2 linked regions of the Homo sapiens genome follow. The protein of the gene in region 1 binds, or shares a complex with, the protein of each later gene. Each region holds a gene or a part of one and is shown on either strand. Other genes may lie near its edges. The genes, in order: LMAN1 and MCFD2. A codon is read from its position in the direction of its gene.

Evidence for each region.
Region 2: the proteins of LMAN1 (region 1) and MCFD2 are in contact, whole or in part, in a cryo-EM structure (PDB 8JP5), measured with the Homo sapiens proteins. Residues at the interface, in NP_005561.1 of Homo sapiens: His43 (codon at 2,994), Arg44 (codon at 2,991), Arg45 (codon at 2,988), Phe46 (codon at 2,985), Tyr48 (codon at 2,979), Lys49 (codon at 2,976), Ser51 (codon at 2,970), Phe52 (codon at 2,967), Lys53 (codon at 2,964), Pro55 (codon at 2,958), His56 (codon at 2,955), Gln59 (codon at 2,946), Ser60 (codon at 2,943), Asp61 (codon at 2,940), Val64 (codon at 2,931), Pro65 (codon at 2,928), Phe66 (codon at 2,925), Trp67 (codon at 2,922), Lys96, Phe265, Glu273, Lys279, Glu280, Ile281, Glu285, Lys286, Tyr289, Glu292, Phe293, Phe296; in NP_001164977.1 of Homo sapiens: Val59, Ile60, Asn61, Lys62, Gln70, Glu71, Leu74, His75, Phe77, Lys78, Tyr82, Asp83, Asn86, Asp89, Gly90, Leu91, Glu92, Thr95, Thr98, His99, Val100, Leu111, Glu114, Leu117, Ile118, Ile121, Asp122, Leu125, Asp129, Lys130.

What each region holds. Positions count from the first base shown.
Region 1 is NC_000018.10:59,356,125-59,363,532, forward strand, and holds the start of LMAN1 (protein ERGIC-53 precursor), read right to left. Parts: upstream 3,142-7,408; 5' UTR 3,121-3,141; coding exon 2,907-3,120; intron 1-2,906. UniProt on the Homo sapiens protein: Mannose-specific lectin. May recognize sugar residues of glycoproteins, glycolipids, or glycosylphosphatidyl inositol anchors and may be involved in the sorting or recycling of proteins, lipids, or both.
Region 2 is NC_000002.12:46,901,081-46,905,806, reverse strand, and holds the end of MCFD2 (multiple coagulation factor deficiency protein 2 isoform A precursor), read left to right. Parts: intron 1-212; coding exon 213-344; 3' UTR 345-3,933; downstream 3,934-4,726. UniProt on the Homo sapiens protein: The MCFD2-LMAN1 complex forms a specific cargo receptor for the ER-to-Golgi transport of selected proteins. Plays a role in the secretion of coagulation factors.

The sequences.
Region 1 (7,408 bases):
ACCATATGTTTACCTGTAAAATGAAGGAGCTAGGCTCGATCACTTCCATAAACACCCTAAAAGTTATATGCAAAATACTGTACTTATATACATTCTTCCATGGAGAGGGTCAACTGAACTTCAAAAAGCAATTCTTCAGAAGATTCTCAGAGAAAATAGTGATCCCTAAAACGGTGGTTTACATCTCCAGGCTAGGTTCAAGCCCCAGCTCTACTACTTACTAGCTGTTTGATCTGTAGGCAAGTTACTCCATTTCTTGAACAGCCTCATAGGTATTTAAGTGCCTACACAAGTAGCTTTAAATGTTTCAATAAATGTTAGCTATTTCTCCTATTATTAGACTAGGTAATTACTAAAGGTCTATCAGACTTAAAATTTGAACAATTCTAGCTCTCAGATATTAACTAATTCTGAAACCCATGCTGGGAAATACAACTGTAACTGTAATCTCACTTTACAGGTAGAAAAAAGTTGACAAAAAGGAAAGCTGAGATACTTTAGTAGGATCAGTCACTGTTCACTGTTACTTACAAACATTCAAAGGATGGGGTGTGGGCATCATGGAAAGAGACTGAACACAGAATCAGAAGACCTAGATTTGAGTTCAACTTCACTGACACTTACTACTTATGTATCCTTTTTCAAAAACCTTAACCTTTCTGAACATCAGTTTTTCATCTATAAAACAGATAACACCCGCCTTGTCTACTAAGGATCAAATCAGAGAATGAAAGTGAAAGAACTCTGAGAGCTATAAAGGGTTACAAATTATCATTTTTTGCCCTTATGGCCTTAAGTGTACTAAAGGAACATTAGAGTTAAGAAAGAGAAACACCATAGATTTGGTCTTAATTTGGGGTTGAAGGTAAAGGGCTGTGTTTAAACTAGATCTTAAATTTCTCTACTTTTTTTTTAAAGTAATGAATTGCAGAGCAAAACGAAAAGAAAAAAATGATCAATGTAGTTACAGTGAGGCTTATGCAAAAACTACAGTGACAATGAAAGCAAGGGATGTCTATAGCAGAGATTCCCAGAGCCAGTAGCCAGATAAATCATGGCTAAAATACTAATACTTTGTTTCAAATTCATTCTAGCCACACGGCTTTAATTTACTGGTACATTATCTTGACATTTCTGCAGCAGAATAGATTAGTTGGTTCCGGCTCTGTAAAGGAAGTCAAGGTAGCTGATTTGACTAGTTGATTAACATTCCTAATTGGCTAATGTAGTGTATGTGAGTGTGAGAAAAAGAGAAAAGGGATAGAAGAACAGGCAGGCAGTGGAGAGGTGTAGAAGTGAAAATGTGTGAACAAATCCATCACTACTGAATAATTCATCATCCCACAAATAGAAACAAAAACTCCAAAAACTTGTGTTTGATATCATTTGCATCACCTTTGTGTATCAAGAATAGAGATACCTTGATAACAAATGCCCAGTAATATACCCTTGCTGCATGGGCACATAATAAATGACTGCTGAGTAACGAAATAACTGCACTCTACTTCAACTACTTAATGACTTGGTCATTAAGTCAAATTAAAATCTATACCTTTCAATTACACATTAATTTGAGAGAAATAGCGCTTCCTAAAAGGGTGCTTCCTATTCAGTAATTACTTTCTAGAAATGAAACATTTTGTTTCAAGAACTGGATAATCTAAAGTGATGTATAAAAACCTTATATAAAAGATTACTTATGGGGGAGGTGGGAGGGATAGCATTAGGAGATATACCTAATGTTAAATGACTAGTTAATGGGTGCAGCACACCAACATGGCAAATGTATACATACTAACCAACCTGCACGTTGTGCACATGTACCCTAAACCTTATAGTAAAAAAAAAAAAAAAAAAAAAGATTAATCACACACAAAGATAGAATTCAAACTGCCAGAGCTCCTCATCTCATATAAAGGCATTTGCCACTTGTTCAACGGGTATATCTGATGGTCACTGAACAGAGCTTATGTCATGCCAAGTGCTACGATTGACTCCTTAGTCAGCAGTGACACATCAGCACTAAAAAGTGCAGATATGTTTTCTTTCACGTAAGTAAATGCTCTAGCAAGGCTCTCTTATCTACAAAAGTGCCAAACACAGAGAGTGAATAAAATATGAACCCAAGATTATTTCAATGCTTCCAATTTTTTTAAAGGGCTAAAAATGTAATGCTATTCTTAGTCTCAGGTTCAGAAACAATCAATCCCTAAAAATATATCCCTTCTCCTAAAAAGTTACATAATGTGTTACTACGAGAGAAAAGATCAAAGACCACACCAAGTCACTGAGAGGAAAATGTGTAGTTCCAACAGTATAAGAATGTCTTCTGACATACAAAGACTTAAAAAATTACTCTAATACTACTATATGCCATCTCAGGAGCCGTCAGTGGGCATGGGGTTCAAGCGAAGCATTAACCATTGCTAACACCGGAGCAAAGAAATCGGGGATCGGGGGTGGGGGGTGGAAGCGGGAAAGGAAGTAAGGGGGCTTCTAGAACATGTCTCAGGTTGGGATGGCTGGGGGTAGGGCACATTTCTCCTAGAGACGTGGCGTTGTGAAACATGATACCTAGAAGCAAGTTTGAGTGCTAGGAAGTGTAGGAGGTAACCAAACACCTCTAGATCCAACGGAAAGTACCGACGAGATCAAAGAAGGGAAGACAGCAGGCGGGTGAGAGAGAACAGAATGGGTGAGGGAAAGACTCGGGGACAAGCGGAGGGAACCGTGCGAACCAGGAGGGACCCGGCGGAGGGGCTGCCAGGAGGGTCCCCTCCACAGCGCATATGGTGTGCAGCTGCTGGAACGGGAACCTCAGCACACCAGGGTAGCCGCGGATGAAAGGCGAAGAGGCAGCAGAAGGGGGAGAGGAACCCGGCCCCCAGCCCTCTGCTCCGGCTTACTCCCCGCGTGGGCCCAGAAGGGCACGGTCCCGTCGCTCTGCACCAGGTGCGGCCCCTTGAAGCTGTATTTGTACTCGAAACGGCGATGTGGCAACGCGACCGCGGGGTCTCCTCCCACGCCGTCGCCCCGGACGAAGCGACCGAGTGACAGCAGCAAGGCGCAGAACAGCGGCCGAACTCTGGCCCGGAGACCCCTTTGCCTGGATCCCGCCATCTTGGATTCTGGAACGCGGAGGAGGGCGGGAGAGGGAGGGGCGCGGATGGCTGCGGATGGCCAACAGGGCGCTCGCTGATTGGCAGAGCCCGGGGGACCCCCAAGGGCAAGGGGTGAGCCCCGCCCCCGGCCTCCGCTTTCCGCGCGGCCGCACGGCCAGGAGCAGCTGTGGGCGGGGCCACGCGCAGGGGGCGGGTCTGGGGCGGTGCGGTCCTTCGGCCCCGCCCACCCTCCGGGGGTGGGGAAAGGACTCCAACCTTCGCTTCCCGCGCGGCAGAGTGCGGGAAGCGCCGATGGGTCCTTACCTGCAGGGAGCTTTCTCCGGCTTCTTAGAATACCTGGGAGCAGGAATTGGCTAGCCCTAAGACCTCTGGACCCAGCCTGTACAAAACCTTTTTAGTATATTAGAAGAAAGGTGTTCCTTTTGATGTGACATCAGTTTTTCAGTGGCACAATCCCGAATGCTTATGGTCCCAGCCCACTGAGCTCTACCAAGCTATGTTAGAGCGTTGCAAACTAGAAACCAGCACCCACGGGGTTGTAGGATGCCTTAGGATTTATAAGTTGGTGTCGGAAAGAGGGTTTCTGTGAATTTGTCAGCCAGCCTTTACATCTCAAAATTTAATTCCAAGAGCTTTCCAAATTTTGAAACCATGGCAAGAGTGCATTCAAATGAAACTGACTTTGGTTTGGTTTGGTTTTGGTGAGAGGGATAATGTGCTATGGACCCAGGCGTCTGTAGAACCTGGACATTTGATATAGGATCGGTCTTCCACTCAATGAATACGTTCTATATTTTAAAGGGGACTCCTCTTTCCCTTGCTTAGGAAAAAATATCGTCAAAATATTCATGGTAATCCAAAGTTTTGTTTTTTCAAAAATGTGTCATGATGAGTTTTTCAAGTCCAAGAAACAGCAGTATGATTTATATTGTTTTTACACATGGCTTTTTATTAGCTCTGTTCGTGTGGGCTACATGAACGCCACACTAGCCCTAGGGACTCAATACCCGCATTACTTAAACTTATTTTTCATTAACTTCCCAGTTTTGGAAGTTGAATCCCATCTTCGGATTCATGGGCCATTACTGTTAAATCTCTTTCTAGTGCTCAAATAAAACCTTCAAGTTGAATATGGATTTAAGGCTTTCCGCCTGCTAGTCTCGAGATGTAATTTAAATGAAAGTACCATACTTACTGCTATCTCAGCAGCAGCAGTAACAAACATTTATCCACTGTATGGTGTATGTGCGTCATTGCCCTGGACTCTCCATGGTTTTCAACCCATAGGATTTAATCATTTTATTTTCTTTGGTTCTCTCATTGCTCTGGCAACCAGCTCTATGCCTTGCACAGAGTGAAGATTCCATAAATATTTGTTAAACAAACATTAATGTTATAAAAATGGCAAACACTTACTGAGTGCTTTCTGTGTGTAACTGCACTAAGCCTTCAACATATGTTAACTTATTGAATGCTGACAGCAGCCCTCTAAGGTAGATGCCATTAATATTTCCATTTACAGATGAGGAAACAGAAGCATAGATTAAATAATTTGCCCAATGTCACACAGTAAGTGGCAGAGGTAGGTTTCAATTCCAGCCATTCTATCATTGAAGCCTTCAATCTTAAGAACCGTTTTATGTTAAACATTATGTATATTAAGTATTTTCAATTCATTACGCATGATTTGAACTCATGAGGGACCTGAATTTCAAGCATAATACAAGTAAATATTTGTAATTTTGCTGAACCATAAATGTAAATCTTTATGTTCTGTGAAGCTGTTTCTTAAAAAAAAAACTGTTTTATTGAAGCATATTATATAGAGAAAATTATGCCAGCCTTAAGAATGTAACTCAATGAATTTTTCCCAAAATGAATACCTCCCATGCAACCAGCATCCAGATTTTTTTTTTAAAAAACACACATTTCTAGAGTTAATGGGTGCAGCACACCAACATGGCACATGTATACATATGTAACAAACCTGCACGTTGTGCACATGTACCCTAGAACTTAAAGTATAATAAAAAAAAATTTCTACTGGGTATGTAACTAGGAGTAGAGTTGCTGGGTCATAGTAGATCCTGCCAAATTTTCAGAGTGGTTGTGCTAATTTACACTGCCATCAGCAGTATGTGAGGGCTTCAGCTGTCTGACTTTTTTTGTTAGCTTGTAGAAACTCTTTATTCTGAATACCTGTCTCTGCTTGGATATATACATATAGCGAATATTTGCACCCACTTCGTGGGATGACTTTTCACTCTCTTAATGTTGTCTTTTAGTGAATAGATACTTATAATTTTAATATAGCTCAATTTACTATTTTCCCCCGTAAGGGTTTTTTGTGTGTCATGTCTGGGAATCTTGCTTGTTGTTTTGTCTAAGTTGTTAAACTTTAAATTTTATAGCATTTTTCCTTCAGAACTGAGAGCTTTTCGGTTTGAGTTAGATAAGACCATTTTACAAATAGCGAAATTGAGAAACTGGGCCTGGCAAACTGAAGTTTCAAGGATCAGAATGCTTTTACTCCAGGCCCCAGGAACTCTGGGCCAGTGAATTTTAAAATCTGTGTTTTTGAAGTAATCCATGTAGGGGAAATTCCTTACAATTAAGTGATGTTTTACCTTCAGGGCAATACCGTATTGCAAATTTTGTACAACACAATGAGGAGGGATTTCCTACTACCCTCTAGTGCCTGAGGCAATTTCCAAAAATTAAGCTCAGATTTTTGAATTGGGAGGGGAATAAAAATTATGAGGGTCCCTCAACACACCATTGGGCCCTGCACAGAGCTGGAGAGATGGAGTGGCAGTACCAGGGCTTGGTTTGCTGCCTGATTCCTTATAACTATCTTCTGGCAATATCCATGACTCATTGCCAGCCTCTTCTGTGCTAGCAAAAAGTATCCCAAATGCCAGAAGATTGACAGGCCTGTCCCATTTATAAAACCCATGGATGTCTTCTAGCACATAGCACAGAATGGTGTTTTGCTCTGGAGTGAATAAGAAGCCAAAAAGCAGATTGGGAGATATCTTTTCTTTCTGGTCTTCCTACTCACAGGGAGCCCTGTGGATTAATGGGTTGTTTTTTCATAATTGGTGATCAATTTCAATTTTCTTTGACCCAGATACACTCCCCTCATCAATGGCACACATAATTGTTGGCTGGAGTTGGGGTAAAATCCATGGTCTGTGAGCCACTCCAGTAGTCTTAAAATAGACCTCCGTTTTGCTTAAGCTAGCTGGAAAGAATTTCACTTAGTTACAGCAAAAATAGTGTTAAAACTAAGGTTACCATGCCAATTCATTGTTTGCATTAGTGGATTAACTATTTTTGGAGCCTCCTAATGACTTTGAATAAATTGTATTTGATAAGAGTAATGAAAACGATATTGTCTGCCTGCTCCTTCAGTGCATGATCATTCATTCACATGTGTTTGTTCTTATTCACAACATCAGACAATTAAGTGTTAAAACCGCTATACTAGAGGCAAGGCAGTAGGAATACAACTTGCTTGGGGAATTCAGATTTAACTTTGAACAGTTAGAAAATTATTATATGTGTTTTAATAAGTTGAATGCTTTAGGCTGCAAGGGCAAAAAAAGCCCCAATTCAAAGTGGCTTAAACAATAAAGAAATCTGTTATCTCACTGAACTGTAAATTAGATTAGGACTGGGCCCAGGCAGTTACGACTAGGTTCTCTCTATCTTTGAGAAGTTCTGGTTCTACCTCACATTGACTTTGTCCTCAGGTTAGCTTCTCTCAAGGTTCTAAGATGTCAGATCTTCTTTAGGTTCAATGGGAGAGACAGAAAATCTCTTTCATCCTTGGATAAAATTTCTGCCTTTCATTCTGATTAGGTCAATCTAGGTTACATGTCCATCTTTGGAACATTAACCGTAGCCAGGGGAAGACCAAGCACTGAATCAGTTGCTGGTAAAGAGTACAAGATTACCAGCCTTGATTGAGAACAGTGGTTCTCAAACTCTAATATCATTCAGAATCACTTCTGGAGTTGGTTAAAACACAAATTTCTGAGACCCACATTTCTAGTTTTAGTAGGTTGAGAATAGGGTCTAATAATTTGTATTGCTAACAAGCTCCAGGTGATACTAATGCTGCTTATCTGGGGACCACACTCTGAGAATCACTAGTTAGACAAATCCTGATCTACCCTGGGAACTGGGGATGGAGTTAGCTTCCCCTGAGTCACAAGGGTTATGTGTGTGTGATGGGGAGTGAACGTATGAACTCAACTGGGGATCAGTTCAGAAGGAGGAAG
Region 2 (4,726 bases), on another chromosome or scaffold:
CTATATATCTAGATTCCTAGAAGTAGCCCCATACTCCATTGAAAGTTTTTGGACACATATGAGCGTGGATATTTTGTTGTTTTGTTTTTCCTTTTTTTTTTTTTTTTTTTTAATAAACAGTGCCATGAAAGAACATGGATATTTTGGACGTTAGTTAAGCACTTCTTCCGGTAAAATGCGCAACTCATCATTGTCTAATTTGTATTTTGTAGGAAGGGAGTGAACAGGCACCACTAATGAGTGAAGATGAACTGATTAACATAATAGATGGTGTTTTGAGAGATGATGACAAGAACAATGATGGATACATTGACTATGCTGAATTTGCAAAATCACTGCAGTAGATGTTATTTGGCCATCTCCTGGTTATATACAAATGTGACCCGTGATAATGTGATTGAACACTTTAGTAATGCAAAATAACTCATTTCCAACTACTGCTGCAGCATTTTGGTAAAAACCTGTAGCGATTCGTTACACTGGGGTGAGAAGAGATAAGAGAAATGAAAGAGAAGAGAAATGGGACATCTAATAGTCCCTAAGTGCTATTAAATACCTTATTGGACAAGGGCTTGCTTCAAGCATCTGTATTAGTCTGTATTAATGCTGCTGATAAAGACGTACCCGAGACTGGGAAGAAAAAGAGGTTTACTTGGACTTACAGTTCCACATGGCTGGGGAGGCCTCAGAATCATGGCGGGAGGTGAAAGGCACTTCTTACATGGCAGCAAGAGAAAATGAGGAAGAAGCAAAAGTGGAAACCCCTGATAAGCCATCAGATCTTGTGAAACTTATTCACTATCACAAGAATAGCATGGGAAAGACTGGCCCCCATGATTCAATTACCTCCCCTTGGGTCTCTCCCACAACACGTGGGAATTCTGGTAGATACAATTTCAAGTTGAGATTTGGGTGGGGACATAGCCAAACCATATCATTCTACCCCTGGCCCCTCCAAATCTCATGTCCTCACTATTCAAAACCAATCATGCCTTCCTAACAGTCCCCCAAAGTCTTAACTCTTTTCAGCATTAACGCAAAAATCCACAGTCCAAAGTCTCATCTGAGACAAGGCAAGTCCCTTCCACCTATGAGCCTGTAAAATCAAAAGCAAGCTAGTTACTTCCTAGATACCAACAGGGGTACAGGTATTGATTAAAGACGGCTGTTCCAAATGGGAGAAATTGGCCAAAATAAAGGGGTTACAGGGCCCATGCAAGTCCGAAATCCAGCAGGGCTGTCAAATTTTAAAGTTCCAGAATAATCTCCTTTGACTCCAGGTCTCACATCCAGGTCATACTGATGCAAGAAGTGGGTTCCCATGGTCTTGGGCAGCTCTGCCCCTGTGGCTTTGTAGGGTACAGCCTCCCTCCTGGCTGCTTTCACGGCTGTTGTTCAGTGCCTGCGGCTTTTCCAGGTGCACGGTGCAAGCTGTTGGTGGATCTACCATTCTGGGGTCTGGAGGACGGTGGCCCTCTTCTCACAGCTCCACTAGGCAGTGCCCCAGTAGGGACTCTGTGTGGGGGCTCCCACACCACATTTCCCTTCTGCACTGCCCTAGCAGAGGTTCTCTCCCCTGCCGCTGAGAGGGCCTCTCCCCTGCAGCAAACGTTTGCCTGGGCATTGAGGCATTTCCATACATCTTCTGAAAACTAGGCGGAGGTTTCCAAATCTCAATTCTTGACTTCTGTGCACCTGCAGGCTTAACAGCACATAGAAGCTGCCAAGGCTTGGGGCTTCCACTCTGAAGCCACAGCCCGAGCTGTATGTTGGCCCCTTTCAGCCATGGCTGGAGTGGCTGGGACACAAGACACCAAGTCCCTAGGCTGCACACACATGTCAGGGGCTGCCCTGACATGGCCTGGAGACATTTTCCCCATGGTGTTGGGGATTAACATTAGGCTCCTTGCTACTTATGCAAATTTCTGCAGCTGGCTTGAATTTCTCCCCAGAAAATGGGTTTTTCTTTTCTATTGCATAGTCAGGCTGCAAATTTCCAAACTTTTATGCTTTGCTTCCCTTATTTATAAGGGAATGCCTTTAAAAGCACCCAAGTCACCTGTTGAACACTTTGCTGCTTAGAAATTTCTTCCGCTAGTTAACCTAAATCATCTCTCTCAAGTTCAAAGTTCCACAAATCCCTATGGAAGGGGCAAAATGCTGCCAGTCTCTTTGCTAAAACATAACAAGAGTCACCTTTACTCCAGTTCCCAACAAGTTCCTCATCTTCATCTGAGGCCACCTCAGCCTGGACTTTGTTGTCCATATTGCTATCAGCATTTGGGGCAAAGCCATTCAACAAGTCTGTAGGAAGTTCCAAACTTTCCCACATTTTCCTGTTTTCTTCTGAGCCCTCCAAACTGTTCCAGCCTCTGCCTGTTACCCAGTTCCAAAGTCACTTCCACATTTTGGGTATTTCTTCAGCAGGTCCCAATCTACTGGTACCAATTTACTGTATTAGTCCGTTTTCACGCTGCTGATAAAGACATACCCGAGACTGGGAAGAAAAAGTGGTTTAATTGGACTTAAAGTTCCACATGGCTGGGGAGGCCTCAGAATCATGGTGGGAGGCAAAAGACACTTCTTACATTGTGGCAAGAAAAAATGAGGAAGAAGCAAAAGCAGAAACCCCTGATAAACTGATCAGATCTCATGAGACTTATTCACTGTCACGAGAATAGCACGGGAAAGACTGGCCCCCATGATTCAATTACCTCCCCCTGGGTCTGTCCCACAACACGTGGGAATTCTGGGAGATACAATTCAAGTTGAGATTTGTGGGGGGACACAACCAAACCATATCAGCATCCTTTCAAGAATATTAGATAATTGGAGCTGAGTACTCAGGAACTTGACTGTAGTAGAATACTGCTAGTTTCTTAATTTTAATTCACATCACCTGAAAAGTAAAACAACAGGCTTTGCCAAGTGGATGCTTTTCAGTAACAGTGAAGTGGAGTGAATACCAAATGTTTGCCCTGGTGGTTCCTATCTCTTCAGGCAAACATGGTCAGTATTCTGTAAAGTTCCCCTGGCCTAAATGATTACTTGCTCTGGGCAAGTGGATATTTATTAGGCTATTTCAAAGCCACAGCATAAGAATGTCAGCCTAGCCACAGAGTCTGAGATTCTGAGTTCAGCCTAGCCACAGAGTCTAAGATTCTGTATCCTCTGACATTTTGGAAATGATACACTACTGGCTTAAGTGATGACTCTTTCAGATTTTCAGTATTTTATACAACTACTGCCACATCCTTATACTTTATTGCTTTTCTGTCTTCTTCAACCTGGGAGAGACCCTGAATTTGAGTGTGTTCTCTAATCAATAGTGGTTTAGCTTTCTTTTCTATTTCACTCGTTTCTAGGGTTTTTTATTTGCAGTTTAGGAACTATTAGGAATGTCAGGACTTTATCAGCAGGGGTAAAACTACCACCTGGCCTAGCCTAAGTAGGAAGTGAAAAGATAATTCACCAAACAATGATTAATCAGATAGAAGTTCTAGTCAAGAGGGATATTGTTGAAGTTACCTCTTTTAGCCTAGATACATGGATTCTTTTCAAATCAGGAAAGATTAGAAAAGGAACCCAAAAAACCCTTTAACAGTGTGAATCTTTATAGTATTTGAAAATGAGAAGAAGCAGCAGATTGTAATTTGGTTTATTGGATGTGATGGACGTTCTGTAATAGAAAACCTGAAACGATGATTGAATGGGAAAAAGAGACTACAAAATTTGTCGTAGGATGTATACAGACTTATTTTCTTTATTACAGTATTATAAGAAAACATATGTATTTGTAAAAATGGTTTCCTGTGTCAAGTATTTGTGCAGTCAGAGCTGACTTGTAAACTATTCTTGTAATAGCTCATTATTTTGAAAGATTTATATATGATGAATTCTGGATATATGACCAATAAAACTGATGAAGCAAAACCTCGAGCAGTTGATTTTGTTCACATCAGCTTCTCCTGCCACATGCAGGGTGTGTTTACTACAAATGTTCACATGTGCCTGCTCTTATCATAGTTCCTGTGACTATCTTCGGCTATACCCTGCTCCTTTTGCAGGAGTCAATTCTCAGAATTCAAAGTTACTTTCCCCTTTTAGGCATTTTTTCTTCTGAATGAAATCACTTTTGGATCTTCATTCTCTGGTCAAATTTAAATTATGACACCATTCTCTAGGAGACTGCATAGCGTTTTCCCCTGGTCTGGCGACTGTTTTTTAATTTGATAGCATTATTGAAAACATACCAGACCCAAGCAAAAAAAGTCTCCCCTGGCATTTTGAGAAGACACACTTTTTTCTGCCTTTTAAAAGGAAATTATCATTGCCTCCCTCCGTACCCTCTGAGACCCTCGGACCTTGCACTGACCCTTCTTCATCCAGAACTACCCCTCTGGATGGATCTAGTGAATGGGCTCCCAGTTGTTGGCAGCTGGGAGAGGGAGAGAAGCAGATCCTCAGATAGTGGAATCACCCCATCAAACAGACAAGGCTGGAACACCTTCCTTCTCCACAGCTGGCTGCTGTTAGTAACTATTCCATGCTGGCCTTTGTGGTCCTTGCCTGCCCTTCCTTATAAAAAATTCTCCTGATGGGAGAGTTTCCTGGGACATCAGGGACACAGCATGATGGGCCCTTCCCTGCATATGCCCTCTATCTCCCACACATGAGGCCTTGGCTTCTTGCAGCCTGCCTCAAGAATTCTTCAGAATGTATAAGG